Linked DNA regions of Homo sapiens: region 2 is linked to region 1. Evidence: fine-mapped expression QTL. Tissue or cell type: whole blood. Region 1 holds a variant in brackets; the other region holds the start of a gene. All regions are shown on one strand. Distances are from middle to middle.

Region 1 (8,102 bases):
TTGGTTTGTTTAACCAAACTGCTTAAAATGTCAACTTAGTTTGCAAAACAGCCCTATGTGGTTGGTGGTATTATCTGCAATTCATCACCAACACACCAGGCCCAGGGCAAAGCTAAAAGCAAAGCTAACAGCCAGAGTGACCAGAACTGGGTCTCACCTCTGCTACACCTGTGCCAGGGAGAGGAGATGAACACTGTAAAGTGCTTTCATGCACTTGGGGGCCTTCCTGTCCAAGTGCAGTATAAATGTTCTTTGTGCCACATCTTAAAGGAATCCTCTTACAGAAAGGGCTTCCCATCTGAGTGGCAAGACCCAAGGCTAGGCTGATGCCTCTTCCTTTGCTATGTGAGACCTGAAGGCAAAGTCTGCCTGGACTGACAGAGATGGATGTGGCCTCCGTCTGTCTGTGTGTCATGACAGAAAGGAGGTGGGAAAACTTGGAAAATGGGAACCCTCACTTTCCTGAAATTCCCAGCAATCAGTTCCAAGAATTGTAACCTTGAAGCACAGGAAAGCAAGACCCTCAGCCGGGAACATGAAAGCTTTTGTCGGGAATTCTTTGAGGTCCTGATGAGGTGACACAGTGACCAGATGTTCCAGATTCAACATCAAGGCCGGTGGGGGTGGCACTGCACCGGTCACTTCAGGAAGAGCAGTGTAGTCAGAGAGCATGGCAACCACCATTCGCCTGGTAGACAGCTCATTCCATCTGCCTTGCATATTTTCCTACTTCCGCTGAGCTCAGAATGGAGAAGATCGAATACAGTCTGCTCTTATCACCCTGAAGACTTTTAAAAAGGCTCTGCATACTCACACAAAAATCGGGAACTTGATCACTGTGGCCTGACAATGTGTTTTGAAAAGGCGGGGGTTGGGGGCGGTCAGTCTTTCCCTGAAAGTTCCCATCCATTGTTGAGTAAACATCATAAATCTATCGCAGAGAGACAGGCTGCCTGTACTCAAATTACCGCCTGCTACAATTTTAGCTTCAAGTTTTAATGCCCTAAACATGAATAACGTCGTATCCCAGCACAGGTCTGATTAATGAGGCAACTTTGCCAACTTCAGGGTCGGAGAGTGGCTCCCCACCTCCTTCCTTTTTTTCCCCCTGTGGCTTAGTAACCATTTCAGCAAATTTCCTCATTAAATATACAAGGCGACTGAGTGCAATAAAAACTAAAGGATGTGGCAGATAAACACCAGCGTCTCTCTGAGCAGACCTCGCTGCCCAACAGAGCAGGCCAGCTCAGGTTTGCTGGGAGGAATCCAGAATGTTCCATCATGAATTCCAGCATAAAAATCATGCACGCATTGCCCTTTGCCATGGGTCATTTTCAGTCTGTGGGTTACACTTACAGGACCGTCTGCTTTCCGAGCTGTCACGTGGTTTATACATGGAATGCCACTCATGCCCTACTTGCACGTAAGGTGACCAATGGCTGGCTGAAGGTCACACTCAGGAGATGACCCAAATTAGCACGTAATGTCCAACCTTGAAAGGAAAGAGGGAAGTTTTATCTTGCCCAGATATTGTCTGTTCCCCAAATAAGATTGTGTGTCGCTTGAGTAATTCCCGAATAGGAGCCCGTTTGTTGAGCACTTAATGCACCCTGGGCACTGAAGAAGAAATGCGGAGGAGTCCCCAGGACTTGCTGAGTCTCCTAGAGACAGCAGAGGTGCTCTGCTCACAGGAGCTCATTTTCTGCCCACAACAACCCTGTGCCATCAGCTACATTATCTCCAGGTTTCTCATACAACCAAAGCTGAGGCTTATAGGGTGGCACAACTTCCCCTGCTCTGGCTCCGAATTCAATATTCCTAAGCCATAAAGCATTTCTCTTTCCTCCCCATCCTGTTCCTATTCCCAGTCTCTCCATGAACACACACACACACACACACACACACACACACACACACCCTTGTCTACACTTGAGCTGTAGTCTGGGCCCGTTACATCAACAACACAACCACGGCAGAACGTGGATTGGTCCAAATTGCAGAGATTTTAAATCTAAATTTCCCATGCTATTGAGACTTTACAGAACCAGTCCTTCAGGTGAGTTTTGATTTTCTGTTTAAGCCAGGGTTCAGCAAACATTTTTTCTAAAGGCCAGAGAGTAAACATTTTAGGCTTTGCTGGGCTGCATGGTCTCTATCACAACGGCTCAACTCTGCCATTGTAGCATGAAGCAGCCACCGGTAATACATAGAGGAATGGCCCAAGGTGTGTTTTAATACAACTTTATTTTTAAAAACAGGCAGAGGGCCAGATTTGGCCTACGGGCCATAGTTTGAGACCCCATAGTTTGAGATCTAAGTCATCACTAAAAGTGTTATCAGTAATTGAGGGTTTTAGACATTGCATCTGTCTAACCTATCAGAAGTAAGATTGGGGGCCAGGGCCATTGCAGTGAGGCTGTGGAAGTTCACAGCTGCTTAAGAAGCACTGTGACCAACATCGCTCCTTACCCCAGATGGGCCAGGCCAGCAGTCACAACATGTGCTCCATGGGGAGACAGCAATAGGCATTTCGCTAGAAAAGAGTTCTCTGGACTAGTAAGTTTAGAAAACCTTGGGCTATTATTATCGTTATTATTATATTATTCCATGACTGCAGGACTTCTCAGGGCTTTCATAATGCTGATGAACATGAATCTTCCTAGATATTCTGGATCTCTAGGAAGGGAAGGTTTGTGTGCAGAGCATGTCTGCACGATATTCTTTGGGAAGACTGCGCTGGCTCCCGTCCTAGAGATTCTCATGCTGTCTTTTCTTTCTACCTGTTTTCCCAACTGTTCCCACTTGAGAGTACTGGCCTGAGTTGCTGCCAACCTTACAATATCCAGCTCCGTCCTCAGAGCCACACTGCGGTCCCACTGGGGACTTTGGTGGCCCTGCCTCCCTGCAACCCCAGGTACTCAGTTTGGAGGGTGTGGAGAGGGCAGGGTTGAAATGCAGGCTGCTGTGTCTCTTTCCTTCAATTTTATCACCAGCTGCTGACCATGCTTGCTTAAAGGTCTGGTATTTATGGTCTCCTAGAGTCTCCCAGAACCTCACAAATACCCCCGGGCTCCTGGTTTGAGGGACTAGATGGGAAGCCCCCCTCCCTGGGAGAACACAGGCCTAGAGCTTCCTGGAACTTAGGCAGCTTGGTCAGGGAGTGTGAGGACTCTGACAGGAGCACGGGTGTGGGACATTCATGCCTGGAAGGCCCTCGCCACCTGAGACCTCGGTGTGGAGGCGGGACTTGGAGGAAAGGAGTCCCTGCTATAGTGGAAAAACCAGCCAGGGTAGGTAGTTTTGTATAAGACTCTTAACTCTGTGGAGACTTCTGTTCATTATCTGCAAAATAGAAATGTGTATCCCAGCAGCCTAGGCTTAGACTGTGAAGGACTAGCTGAGGGGTGTGTGAGAAAGTTTTGCAAACATGGCTGGGCACAGAAGGCTGAGCTATTGTCTGGAGGAAAACTCTCAGGGCAATTCAGACCTTTCTGGGCCCTTCTGAGGCAAGAGGCATTGAGGCAAAGTTTGAGATTTGACTTCAGGGACACTGTTCTCTAAGCATATGCTTCAGTCACGAGCGCTGAACCCACTCTCAAAAGCTAAGTAGTAGCAATGAAATGCTTAAAAAGTTCGACCCAGACTGCAAAGACCCACAGAAAATAGAGCACAGTGGCTGGCTTGGGGAGGGACCCTCGGTCCAGACAGCAGCCAAGGAGTTCTTGAGCCTTATTTATCACGTTGTAGTATTTTACAAGGAGGGCTATGCGTTATTTCTCTAATTGAA[C/T]GTTACTTTTAAAAACAGACAAAGAGAATCAGGAAAAATGATGTGAGGACCTTAGGCCCAGATCTGTTTCCGTTTCAACAAGATGTGTCAGGATGATGAAAATGTCGTTTGGTTGAGCCGTGGTCATCACCCCGCATTGTTGTTCTTTCATGTGTTTGTGTGTGTGTGTGTGTGTGTGTGTGTATGTGTTTCCCTCTGAGTTTCCCAGTAGTCATTACTAAAAAAAACTCCTAAACTGACTCAAAACAACAATGACAAAAACAAAAGCAAACAAAAAGACCCAATCACCACAGGCGCCATTCAGGCCCTCTTGTCTGACGGTGTTCACAGACTGTGCTTGTGTTTCTGGATGTACCCGCTTCCTTTTCTCTCTTACTCACCAGATATCACTGGGAATCCCTCCTTCTTGCTCCAGGACTCTAAAGGAGACACTGGGGTAAGACTCATGTGGGTCTTGGGGCAGCCCATTTCCAGGAGAGCATGACCCCCACCCCCCAAGCCCCAGGAGGACGGACCCTTCCCAGCTGAGGCCTCCTCTGCATCCGGACCAGGGCCCTGGGCCTGAAGCCAGGTTTTAGTGAAGGCCTTTTGTGGGTGCCTCTCTTGCCCAGGAAACACAAGGTCTTTAAGCTAAGCCTGTTTGTGGGGAGAGCAACCCATTTCTTAGAGGGACTCAATCCATAGGGAGGACACTAGTCCATCAGGGGGCCCTTGTATTTTCATCCTGGAAAGCACAGTCCCCTGTTTCCTTCTGGGACATGAGAAGTTGCTTCTAATGGTTCATCCCCACAACCTCACTTCCCCATCCTTGATTTGCAAATGGGTCCATAGAGAGGTCCCAGGCAGCTACTTGACCCAGGCAGCGAAGGTGAGCGTGGGTCTCCTCACTGCCATGAGCCAGGCAGAAGAGCAAGCAAAACAGCTAAGAACCAGACAGGCCAGAGTTCAGGTTGCAGCTCTGAACCTGACTAAGCTGTGTGACCCAAGGCAACTCACCCAACCTCTCTGAGCCTCAGTTTCCCCACTTAAAGTGGAAACAAGACCAGCCCCTGCCTCATGGAATTGTCATGAGGAAGAGTGAAGGGGTGCTCGTGCAGAGCTGGTGCCCAGGGAAGGGGCTCCGGTGCCAGGCCTGACAGCTCGTCAGGGAAGCCTGCTGCCGGCCATCCCAGGGAGACAGTGCCAGATCAGAGGGAAGCTCAGCAAGCCACTTAAAAGGGACCTTGACTCATTTTGTGGTAACCGAATGTGCAGTTCAGGAAGTGCTTCGCAAAAGCGAACTGGGCTCCAGCCGCCCCCTCGTCCCCCTGCCCTCTGCTCAGGATTCACTGTGCGAGGACCCACCTGACACCACCTGATGCATGCCAGCAGCGTGGATGGCAGGCCCCACGTGTTCTCAAGCCCACCAAAGGCTGGTGGGTGTCGGCTCTCGGAAAGACAGCCTGACCTCCTGGACTGAAATTCCACTCCTCTCTTTAGTCGAGGTGCTCAATCTCCCTGAGCCTCTGTTTCCTCCTCTGTAACTGGCACTACCGCATACTAGGGCCGGTGCAAAGCCCTTGGCAACTAGGTATCATTTAATCCCCACAAGCAGCTCTAAAGGCAAGTACGAAACCTTGCCATTTAAGGATGGGGAAGCTGAGGGCACCTTGAGTTATGCCAGGGCACACACAGGGTGAGTCTTGGAGCTGGAATTTGAACCTGGGGAATGGCACTCCTGGGCCTTCCCTCCTAACTCATAGTATCTACAACCTGGATTGTAGACCTAGCTAGTAGGTCTTGGGGGTCCTTCCCTCCTAACCCCTGGTATCTAGAACCTGGATCGTAAACCTAGCTAGTAGGTCTTGGTGGTTCCTCACATGGATAGAAGAGATGCCAATTTCCATTAACCATGCACACTGCTGCTTGGTGGGCAGGTGAGGAAGTGGTCTGAGTGTGGAGGAAGCCCAGGACAGGACCCTCTTTGCCTCCCCGTGGGATGTCCTGGCTGCCCTGGGAGGATATGTGTGGTGTTCTCTACACCCACCTGAACCTCTAGCTCCCCAGAGCCTCTGACTGCATGTTCTGAGGGCAGTGGCATCGGGAACCCATGGGCGCAGTGTGCAGAGACTGGCCGAGGAGAGCTGTAGGGGTTACCTATTAAGGAGGCAGGTCCCAGCAGGTACTAGGGACTGAAGAGGGTGGAGGGAGACCCGAGGGGGGAAGAGGCTGCCCTCGTCATTAGCCCAGATCCATCCCACCCACTTCTTCCCATCTCCCTGTACTTGCCCCATAGGGATTCCCAAAGAGAGGGAAGTAGAGGGGGAGAGGAGTACATGGGCACAGGAGAGCGAGTGAGCACCCCACCCCACAACAGTGTCCTGAGGAAGGCCCCTCTTTTGTCTCCTGCTTCACAAGCCTTGGGAACGGGGAACTCTGCAGGCTGAGCGGCATCCCTGCTGGGAAATGAGGGCCTGTCTTAGTTCCTCATTTAAGGCACCCACCCTCATTCCCAAGGCAGTTAAAAGCCCCAAGTTGCCCAACTCGGTCAGAGGAAGCCTGTCCCATCAGTCTCACACACCCAGAACTTGATTCTCTGGCCTCCGAGACTGGGCAGGGACCAGCTCTGTGTCCCCGAGCCCACATGTAGAGGAGGGAGCCGCGAAGCTGATAGCCCAGGAACTTCTATTCCCCACTTGTCATTGTCAAACTCTGATGTCTTCTGGGACTAAATTTGAAGGACAGTTTTTACTGTTGTAACCAAAAAAGCAAAAGGAAGCAAACAATTAACAGGCCCCCTTCTTTTCGGGACTTTTTTCTTTGTCAGTAGAAAGCCATCTCAGTAAACAAGAGCTGTTACGAAATGTACCTCACCCCACACTATGCCTGTAAAGCATCTCCCTTCCCCCCGCTGCACAACCCATTGTACAAGAAATATTGTGATAGATACCTTTGGGTTGAGGCTGGAACAAAATGAGCCATCAGGAAGCATTCCATTTTCAGCTGGACTTGTTTCTGCATCTTTTGGAGGATTTCTGCAAACCCACAGCCCAGTATGGCATTTCCCATACTCTGTGATAAGAACCTCCAGGATAACGTTGGTGGCTCAGGGATCATCTGAGCCTTGAGCAGCTTCCATTCTGATCTGGATGTCTCTGATGTGTGCTTGTTCAAGCAATCGATGAGCCAGTCGTGGGCCCCAGACTCATGGGAACTGGGGGAGTGCCCAGGTCAACCCTGCTTGCTTTTACAGCTTTCCTATAAAAGCTTCTCCACTCTTTGCCTGGGCAAGCCCATGCCCAGATCTCCAGCACACACTCCAGCTGCCAGAGGGGGTGGGGGGGCTCCCTCCTGCGTCTGGAACCTATTCAGCCAGCCTGAGATTCAGAAGGGCCTACCTGCTGGAGCTGAGGGTGGGTGAACCCACCCACTTGGGGCTAGCGAAAGATTGCATCTTGTCCCAAGGCTCTGCTGGACCTTGGAGGATTCCCACCATTGTCTTTTTGGGATTTGAGGGAGGTGTTTCAGACTGGGAGACTGGGAGAATGTTTCCCAGCAAAAGGCAGAGGTTGGGGTTCCTGGGATGTGGCTCCCCACAGACCAGGAGGCTGACACAGTTCCTCTCTCTGTCTTCCTGCTTTTCTCATGCAAACAGCACCCCTTTCCCATGGCTGCTCTAACATCCTTGGTAGCTTAACACAAAACACAAATGTATTCTCTCACAGTTCCCAAAGGCCAGAAGCCTGAAATCTGTTTCAATGGGCTAAAGTCAAGGTTTCGGCAGGGCTTTGGGGAGATCAGCTTCCTTGTCTGTTCCGGCTTTTAGACATGGCCAACGTTCCTTGGCTTGTGGACCCTTCCTCCACTTAAAGTCCATCACTCCAGTGTCTGCCCCATCGTCACATGGCTATCCCTTCTTTAACCTTCTTGCCTCCTTCATATAAGGACCCCAGTGGTTACGTTAAGGGCCCACTCAGATAATCCAGGACTACCTCTCTATCTCAAGATCTTCAACTTAATCACATCTGCAAAGTCCCTTTTGCCGTGTAAGGTAACATTCTCAGGTTCCAGGGATTTGTGGATGTCTTTGGGAGCCATTATTCAGACTCAGATAGTTATAGTTAAGACCTATGAGACAGTCTTCTACATCCCTGAGTGATACTTGAAGCAGCCTAGCAACAAAAAAAGCCACAAAACTTTGTCAGGAGAGCTGTTTTTGGGGCCACCCCACATTGACCCTTACCTCTGCAGCCCCTGGTTTCCTCTGGCCCCTGCACTTGTGTGATACCTTGAGAAGGGGTGGATCCACATGCCAGCCTACGCAGGAGCAAGAGGA
Region 2 (8,095 bases), 290 kb after region 1:
AATGTCATTTTGTTCCAGTGTCTGTTCTGATGGGTTTGTTGAGTTAGCCTTCATCATGAGGTACAATCTAAATTATAATAGACTCTGTACTGGGTTTCCTAATTGATAACTCTACCAACTTACTTCTATCTTGTTCATGTATGGCAAGCTAATCTGGACAAATGGTCAATGTGATTGACTACTGATCAAGACATGAACCTTTTCCATTGGTGGGGAACAGCAAGTCGATCAACACAGACTCAGCCCCTCACCAAGGTTACCCAAAGTATGTACCCAAAGTCACATGCTGTAGGTTCAAGGGCCAAATCAAGTCTGCAGATGTTTCTTTTCAGCTTGTACAATGTTTTCAAAATCTGAATCAGCTGTCAATGTTGAAACAGGGTATCTGGCATCAATTTTGCATTCCTAGGTTATCTTGCAATATAGGAAAACCCACCCTGAGACCACATGCCCTCACAGCCACAATTAGGTGTGGCCCAAACATAGAAGGGGCAAATACTCTCCAATTTACCAGTCTCCACCAGGTCAGTTCCTTCCATGATTTTGCTGTGGGCCTCTGTGGTATTTATGTTAGCCACTCTTGGTTCAAACCCTACTACTGCCTTTAATCCCTGAAATAAAAACCTACAACCTAATCTGATTAGTACTATGTCCAAACCCTCTGAGCAATAAGCACAAAGAGGAATTTAGGCAGAAAACAAACCATTTTCATGGTTCTATGTTGGTACTGCTTTCATGAACTAGTTCATTTTTTTAAAAGTGTTATTTTCAAAAATGATTGTCATCTTTCTTTACACTTTTGATTATTAAGCTATTTTCTGTAAATGATCAGTTCCCTTTCAAGCAAAATGTCATTACTATGTAAAGCCTGGTGGTTAAAACACACTTTAGCTTAATGAAGACAGACCTGAAAGCTAATGTTTGGACCTCAACTCATCACTGCCACAAAAGTTAGTAACTTTGTAAAAATGTTGATGTGGGCCATGCGCGGTGGCTCACGCCTGTAATCCCAGCACTTTGGGAGGCTGAGACAGGCAGATTACAAGGTCAGGAGATTGAGACCATCCTGGCTAACACGGTGAAACCCCATCTCTACCAAAAATAGAAAAAATTAGCTGGGCGTGGTGGCACGCGCCTGTAGTCCCAGCTACTCTGGAGGCTGAGGTAGGAGAATTGCTTGAACCCGGGAGGTGGAGCTTGCGGTGAGCTGAGATTGCACCACTGCACTCCAGCCTGGGCGACAGAGCAAGACTCATCTCAAAAAAAAAAAAAAAAGTTGGTTTGATAGTTTGACACATCCTCCATTCCCATCTAAAGATGGAATAAATCAGTTACGGGGTTTTAAAAGGGGATTTTAAATGCCACACACAGCCTTCAAGCAGATTCAACCATCCACACGTCAACTGCCTCTTACCCAGGCATTGCTTACCCATTGCACTGAGATAGTGGTTGAAGGCCTGGCAAGGAGGACTTGGGGTTTGTGTTGATTTGTCACAACTCATGGGTGCTGGGCTCCTGTCTGTGTCAAAAGAGAAATACCCACTGGAGGATCGAGACAGCAGGGAGGATCTTCTCATAAAGATGAAAAGCGGGGATCTGGTAGCAAAAGGGCCAGGGCTGGCAGGTGGGGCCAGCGGGCCCTGAGGGCTGCCGTGGGGGCAGCTGTCCCCTTCACCTCCGTGATTGCCTTCAGGATTACCTTGTGGCTCTGTCTGTAGGGAGGTAGGGGCCCCAGGTCTGAGCTGGGGAGGCCTCTCCGCAGGCTGCAATTGTCTACCTTCTCGGTCACACTCAGAACTTACATCAGAAGGTTGCTTTGCCATTTGGTCTTTTTTTCTGCAAGTAAAATAAAAACTAAGATTATTTTAAGCAAAAAAAAAAATCGATGAATAAACAAATTAGCTCTCACCTAGCGATTAAAAATTCTTAGGGTTAATCCCAAATACTTTGTTCTATACTTTTCTGACAATCTCCCAAATAAAAAAATTGCACCTAAAATAATAAAGGTGTAATTTTTTTTTGGTAGAGGGTACCCCCAAACAAAATACAGTAACAATGTCAACAGCTTGCGGAACTGGTGCACACACACATGCGTTTCCAGAGAAGCAGCTAATCTGAAGTCTATTCGTGTGTGCTCTTTGCCCAGGACAGACTTCTTCGAGTAAGTCAGAAACTCCCAGCGGCTCTGACTTCCCGGGGTTAGGTAGGACGCCGGAGCACAGGAGCGGGCGCAGATGCAGCGATTGCAGGCGGCTGGCCGCGTTCCCTGCTCCGGCCCCATTGTTTGCCGAAAATGCTGAGGGCAGCAAGTCTGGGGAAGGTCTGGCAGCGGCCGTCAGTCGTAGTAAGTGCGTCACAATAGAGTTTGTAACTCCAGCGCGGCTCGGCCCGGCTCTGGCGCTCTCTCCGCCCGTGCTCCCTCCCTCCCGCTCCCGTACCGCACGCCGCACCGAATCAGACAGAACTTCTCTGAGGTGCACACCGTGAGGTGCACATCTCTAAATGGGGAGGGGGCGGCGGAGGGCGACGAAGCGAACGCCTGCAAGGTCTACAACTAGGTCCGCAGGCTAGGCGACACCGGTGCGCGCCGCGCCGCCTTCATCCCACAGACCCTCCCCTCAGAAGGCAATCACACCGAAACTCACGTCCGCGCCTTCCCTTCAGAGCGCAGCGTCCGGGCCAGGGACCAAGCCCCGCGGCGTCCGGCCCGCGCCCTTCGCCGACCGGGCGCCCCCTGACCGTCACCACGAAAGCAGCGCAGGAGACAAAGCCCGGGACTCGGGTTCAGAGTCCCCGGCGCAGCGCAAAGCCCGCGCCTTCCCGCCAGCCCGCCGCCGCGCTCCGCCGGGCAGCCGAGGGCTCCGCACGCCGCGCCTCTGGCCCGCGCTGCCCCGGCCGCAGCCGCCGGGAACATCCTCCGCCTCCTCCCGCTCCTCCCCTCGCGCTCTGCGCCCGCCGCCGCCGGCACCGCCGACCTCCCCGCGCCGCTGGCGCCGGGTGCCCGCGTTCCCAATTGGTCCGCGCGCGGTCGCTCCGCGCCGCAGCCAATCGGCAGCCGCGGTGGGGGCGGCGCCTACGGGTCAGGCCGCCAAAGGCGAGGCGATTGTTGACAAACTCGCCTCCGAGCGCTGCTCTGGCCGTGGTCGTGGCGGCTGCCGCTTCGTCGGAGGATTTGAGGGCCGGCTGGCCCGGCCACCCTGCCCATCCCTGTGCTCCTTCCGGACACAAGCCTTAGCAGCTCCCGCCGTCCTGGACAGCCAGTCACCTGGAGACAAAGCAGGACTTGCGCCGCGCCCGGACCCGCAGGGCCATCCCCAGGCCCAGTCCTCGCCACTTGTCCTTGTTTTGGCCCGTCGGGGGCAGACCCTAACGGCCGTCACCGCCCTGGCTGTGGCAACTATTCTCCTCCAACAACTTCCTCTCTCTCCTGGTGCGCCGCAGACACGAGTCAAAGCCGAAGAGCCACCCCTGGCCGCGGACGCGCACGTCCGCGACCATCGAGTAAATTCACACCCTCCGCCCTGGCGTCCGTCGGGCCCTCCACCAGCAGCGCCAACCCTGGGGCAACAGGTCCCAGAGGGCACGGCGCCGCCAGCCTGCACCGCGAACCGGGTCGGGTGTGCTCGGGCATGCGTGAGCCGCTAAGATAGCCCGGCCCAGGGACCGAGCAGGTTCTGCCGGCCGCGACTAGTCCCCTGCGCGGTCCAGGTGGTCAGGGGAGGACCTAGATTTCTCGCTGCCAGGGAATCGTGCGGATGGCACAGGCCGCAGGACTCCTGCAGAGCAAGCAGGGGCCCCAGGTACGCTTGAGAAAGCGAACGCAGCAGTGGCCCCGAAACCTTGGCCTGAATGAGTAAAAGGAAAAGCCGTGTCTCGTCAGTTAAATCACCACCGCAGTTCCGCAAATCCTCCGCAACAGGCCCACGCGCCCCAAAAAACCAAGACACGAAACACCCTCACACTGCGCGGCCGCTACTCTGAGGGCGCCGGAGCCGGCGGCGAGACTTTCCAGCTGGGCGCACAGCCCGATACTACGAGCAGGTCCTCAGCTCCCGGGCCGGCGCCGAAAGGCACGCGCTGCCTCTCCTCCTGCCCGGACCTACGACCCTTCACCAGGCCCGCGCGCAGCATCCCGTCCCAAGCCGCACTTCGGCCAAGAGCCTGCAGGTTCCGCGTGAACGACTTTTCTTTAAAGAGAACCTGCCCGAGAGGGAACCCGATCCACACGGATCCCCACCTCCCGCCGGCGACAAGCGGCGCCGATGCAAGCGTCTCCGCTCGCACGTGCACGGGAAGCGGGCAGTAGGTGGTGCCGTTCGGGCTCCAGCGCTAGTCTTCCTTCGGTGCCAGGCCCGCGCCCCGGGATTTGGAGGTATTTACCTTGCGTTTCTCAGTCCGAGAGTCAGAGTCAGACATTTGGGGGAACAAGGGCCAAGAAAGGGCGCCGAGGCGGTGGCGGCGGGAACGCAGCGAACCGAATACCGCGATGATGCGATCGCAGTGTGGCAGGGTTCGCAGGGTGGCTGCAAGAATCAAGTGGTGGTAGTGGCGGCGGCGGCGGCGGCGGCGGCGGCGGCGGCGGCGGCGGCAGCGGCAGCGGCGCTGGACGCAGAGCTCCAACAAACTGCAGACCAGGCGGCTGCGCGGAGCGAAGTGAAACCTGCGCGGCCCTGCAGCCCAGCTCTGGCTGGCGGCCCCGCTCCTACGCCCAATCACTGCGGACCCCGCCCCCGCTAGGTCCCGCCCCGGCGCGCGGGCTGGCAAGCTCCGCCCCCCTCGGCGCCGCGGCCGCCGGCGCGTGCAGGCTCGGACAGGTAAAGGCGGGGGTTGCCCCGCTGGGTTGCCTCCCGCGCGCGCCGCCGTCCCTGGCGTGTTTACCGGAGTAACTCTGCCTGCTGGCGGCCATGTGCGCGCCCATCCCCCACCCCGAAGTGTACCCTAGCCTCCCGCTCACCTACCCCAACCCGGCGGCGGCCGCGGCGTGCGCGGCACAGAGGGGGCGCTCCGGTCACAGCCTCCGCTGGCCCGGCCGGCGGTGTGAAGCCTCGGGAGGCGCCCTGCGCTCTCACTGTGCCCTGAGTTTCTAAGCCGCTCTGGGGCAGGCGCGGGGACTGGGTTGGTCCTCGCGAAGGCGCGGGGCGAGGTCTTTGAGCTCTCCTCCCTCTGAGGGTCCCTGGCGCCGGGCGGGACGCGGATCAGCAGGCTGCGCATCTTCCTCGCCCGGGCCTCTCGCGGGACTCAGGCACCCTCCTCCTGCCACCCCGCAGGGGCTCTCCAGCTTTTCTTCCGCGCCCAGTCGCCCTAAGAGACAGAGGCCGTGGGGGCAGGACGCGCCCAGAAAACGGCCAGGCGCGGTCCCAGTGGGCGTCTTCGCCGCCTCCCGGGTGAGGGCGGGAGGCATGTGCAAAGCAGGTAAAATAGGGAAATGAAAAAAGCACTCAGAAAAAAAAATCCTTTTAGGAAAAAAAAAAACGAGGTGAATGGCGGCCTCCAAGTGAGAGAGAACGTTGCGCACTGCATTTGGCTAGGACCCCCAAGATTTGCTGGGCTCGCAGATAACCTCGTAGGAGCTCCCTCGACTGGCTGAGGCCAGTGAAGGCAGAACAGCTGAGTTCGGGCCGCGGTGCGGGAGCGCAAAATACCCCGTCCCTCCTCCCCTCCCGCCTCCCCACCCATCCCTTTCCTCCCTGGAGTCCGCAGCACCTCACTCTACCTCCCAGGAGACCAAACTCCATGCCGCCTCTCCAGTCCTCTGAGTCTGCACCCGGGTCTGCTCTCCCAACGCGTGGCTGGCGCCCCAACCCCGGCCCTCCTGTCTGCTCCTCCCGCGCCTCAGTTCCCCAGCCCCAGCTTCTAGACAACTGCAGCGGGGGTGTGGGAGGTGGATCGGGAAATGGAACATCCCGCAGGTGAGGTCAGGCTAGATGGATTAAGGAAACTCTGTAAAGGGACCACCCTACACACCACCGCAGCCGGCAGGGAGAAGGAAGGGGCCTTGCCGTAGAGGAGCAAGTGAGGAGGCGTTGTCCCGCCGTCCGGCCGCCTGGAGCAGTTTTTAAATTCATAAGCGCTTCTGTAACGTCAGTGGGACACAGCGCAGCCCCATGCCAAAGTCTCAGCGCATTTTCGGGTGAATTTTGAGCGAGGTGAAGGAGGCCTTGGGTTCCCGGAGTCGCTGGAGGACGCGCGTCGGGCCCCGCCCAGTTATTTCGCTGCAAGAGGGAAAAGGCACGAGCGTGGACACGGCTAAGTAGACTCGGAGGCCGGAGATCGGTCCTAACCGGGCCTCGAAGTTCCTACCGCGGACGAACTTTGCTCTTCGCGGCCGTCCCGCGTCGCACCCGGGGAAAAGCAACACAACTTGCTGCGCGGGCTGAGAGCCCGAAGCCCGCCGCACGCCGCAATGCTCCGCGCTCCCCGCGGGGTCGGGCGACTCAGACAGGGACCGGAAAAGAACCACGCAGAAGAAAGCCCTATTTCTTGTCGTCTGTTCCTGTGCAGCCTTGCAGCCTCGCCGCCCCCGCGTCGCTCGCTCTCGCGACCCTGTGAACACTTTGAAAAACAAGAGTCGGGGGAAGCAACGGGCTAAGCGCTGCTATTTGGGGCACTAAAAGGAAGCCGGCCAGAGGTGGCGGGTTCATGCGTCCCCCGAGACCCAGGCCGCGTCGGGGGCCAAGAGCCCTTACAGCCTTCTCCCGCGCCGTCGGGAGGTCCTCCCGGAACTGGGCCGGAGCGCAGAGAACGCAGTGTGAGAAGGGCCCATGGGTTTTAGGTCACCTCCTTCGCGCTGGACGCGGGCAGAGCGGTGTCCCTTTCTGTCTCTGCCAAGAGACGTGGAGGGAGGGAGAAGGGAGGATGGCTTGTGCTGAAAGAAACAAGAATGAAGTCGGGCAGCCGGGATCTGAGAAATGGGAAATCCATGGCCCTTGTTCGGGACCACAGGCTTTGCCGACGTGGTCTCTCCTAGTTCCGAAATTGCCCAGGCCCGCCTCCCCACCCTCTGCAAGCAGCGGGAACGACTTCCACATCGCTTAATTTCTTTATTAAACTTTTCACCTATTCTCTTCTAAAGGACAGACTACAGCGTCAGATGGTAAAAATGTTTTCCGCGCCTTGTCTTGCCGTACGGAAACCGCCGGCCTGGGAGGACAAGCCGAGTTCTTGTTTTGCCGAGAGCAAAACTCTAGGCTCCCACTTCCTTCTCCCAGTCCGTGCGTTTCCTTGCAGAGCCCCAGAGCGTCTGATTCACTGAAATAGCATCACTTGCTGAACCAAACCTTTTTTCCCGCTCGCGGAAAGAGTGGAGCTTTTTTCTTTTGTCTAAGGGTGTTTGCTTTTTTTTTTTTCTTTCACTCGGCACCACAGTTTTTCTAAATCACTGGGAATGTGAGTCACCGCTAACAGCAGGAGACCTTTGGCGGCACCCGGCTGTGGGGCGCGCTCGCAGCGGGGAGCCCACCCTGATTGTCTAGGGGATCCGGCACTGAAGTTGGGAGAGGTTGCAGTCAGGCCAGGCTGGGTTTCAGGGAAAGGGCACAGGGATCCAGCGCACCAGGCGACCGTCTGGATCTCTTTCCTAGCAGCCAGCCGCGCACCTCGCCAGCCTCGGCGGGACCTCCGCTTTGCCACCAAAATCCCCGAGAGTGGCGGCCCAGCGGGTGCCAGCCCCCGGCCTCGGCCACAGCTCTGGGCGTCGGTGGAGCGAGCGTCGTGGCAGCTGCTGGCGGGCCACCACACTTCCCGCCACACCCGTTAGAGCTTGGCTCCCAGCTTGGGCCGCCGGGAGCGCGCCTCTTCCCGTGGCCGCGGCTGCAGCGGTGCAGGGTAGAAAGCCCACGCGGCCCGCGGGTTGGAGATTCCGGCGATTGGTGCGTGGAGGTAGGTGTGTGGAATGTTAAAGGTCGAGATCACCCTCCGGGCATCATCCTTCACCGAGTCGCACAAATCCAGCAACTGCAAAACACAACACAATGGGACAGGTCAGATGTTGGCACACTTACAGCCATCTAGTGACAGCAGCTTTCAGCCCACCAAGCACCCGCACACACAGCGGCCCCGGAAACTAGTTTCCCTTTGGATTCTCCTGTGGAAACTG

What was found. PIP is the estimated chance that this variant, and not a neighbour inherited with it, causes the effect.
Region 2: BCL2L11 starts here. The variant in region 1 is fine-mapped to the expression of BCL2L11 in whole blood (TOPMed, PIP above 0.99).

Annotation. Positions count from the first base shown.
Region 1 is chr2:111,409,247-111,417,348 of GRCh38, reverse strand. All of the region lies in intron 1 of MIR4435-2HG (MIR4435-2 host gene), which reads left to right. Among named protein-coding and RNA genes, the nearest start is that of SOCAR, 78 kb to the left of the region's middle. The variant C/T (reference allele first, on the strand shown) is at 3,788.
Region 2 is chr2:111,117,474-111,125,568 of GRCh38, reverse strand. It overlaps BCL2L11 (BCL2 like 11), which reads right to left and starts at 4,655. Exons shown (of 4, transcript NM_138621.5): 1 at 4,381-4,655; 2 at 1,430-1,836. The coding sequence starts at 1,823. ACOXL (acyl-CoA oxidase like) reads right to left here. Exons shown (of 18, transcript NM_001142807.4): 18 at 7,021-7,953. The coding sequence ends at 7,753. RefSeq lists silencers at 2,571-3,130, 3,923-4,217, 4,551-5,090 and enhancers at 4,101-4,220, 5,371-5,450.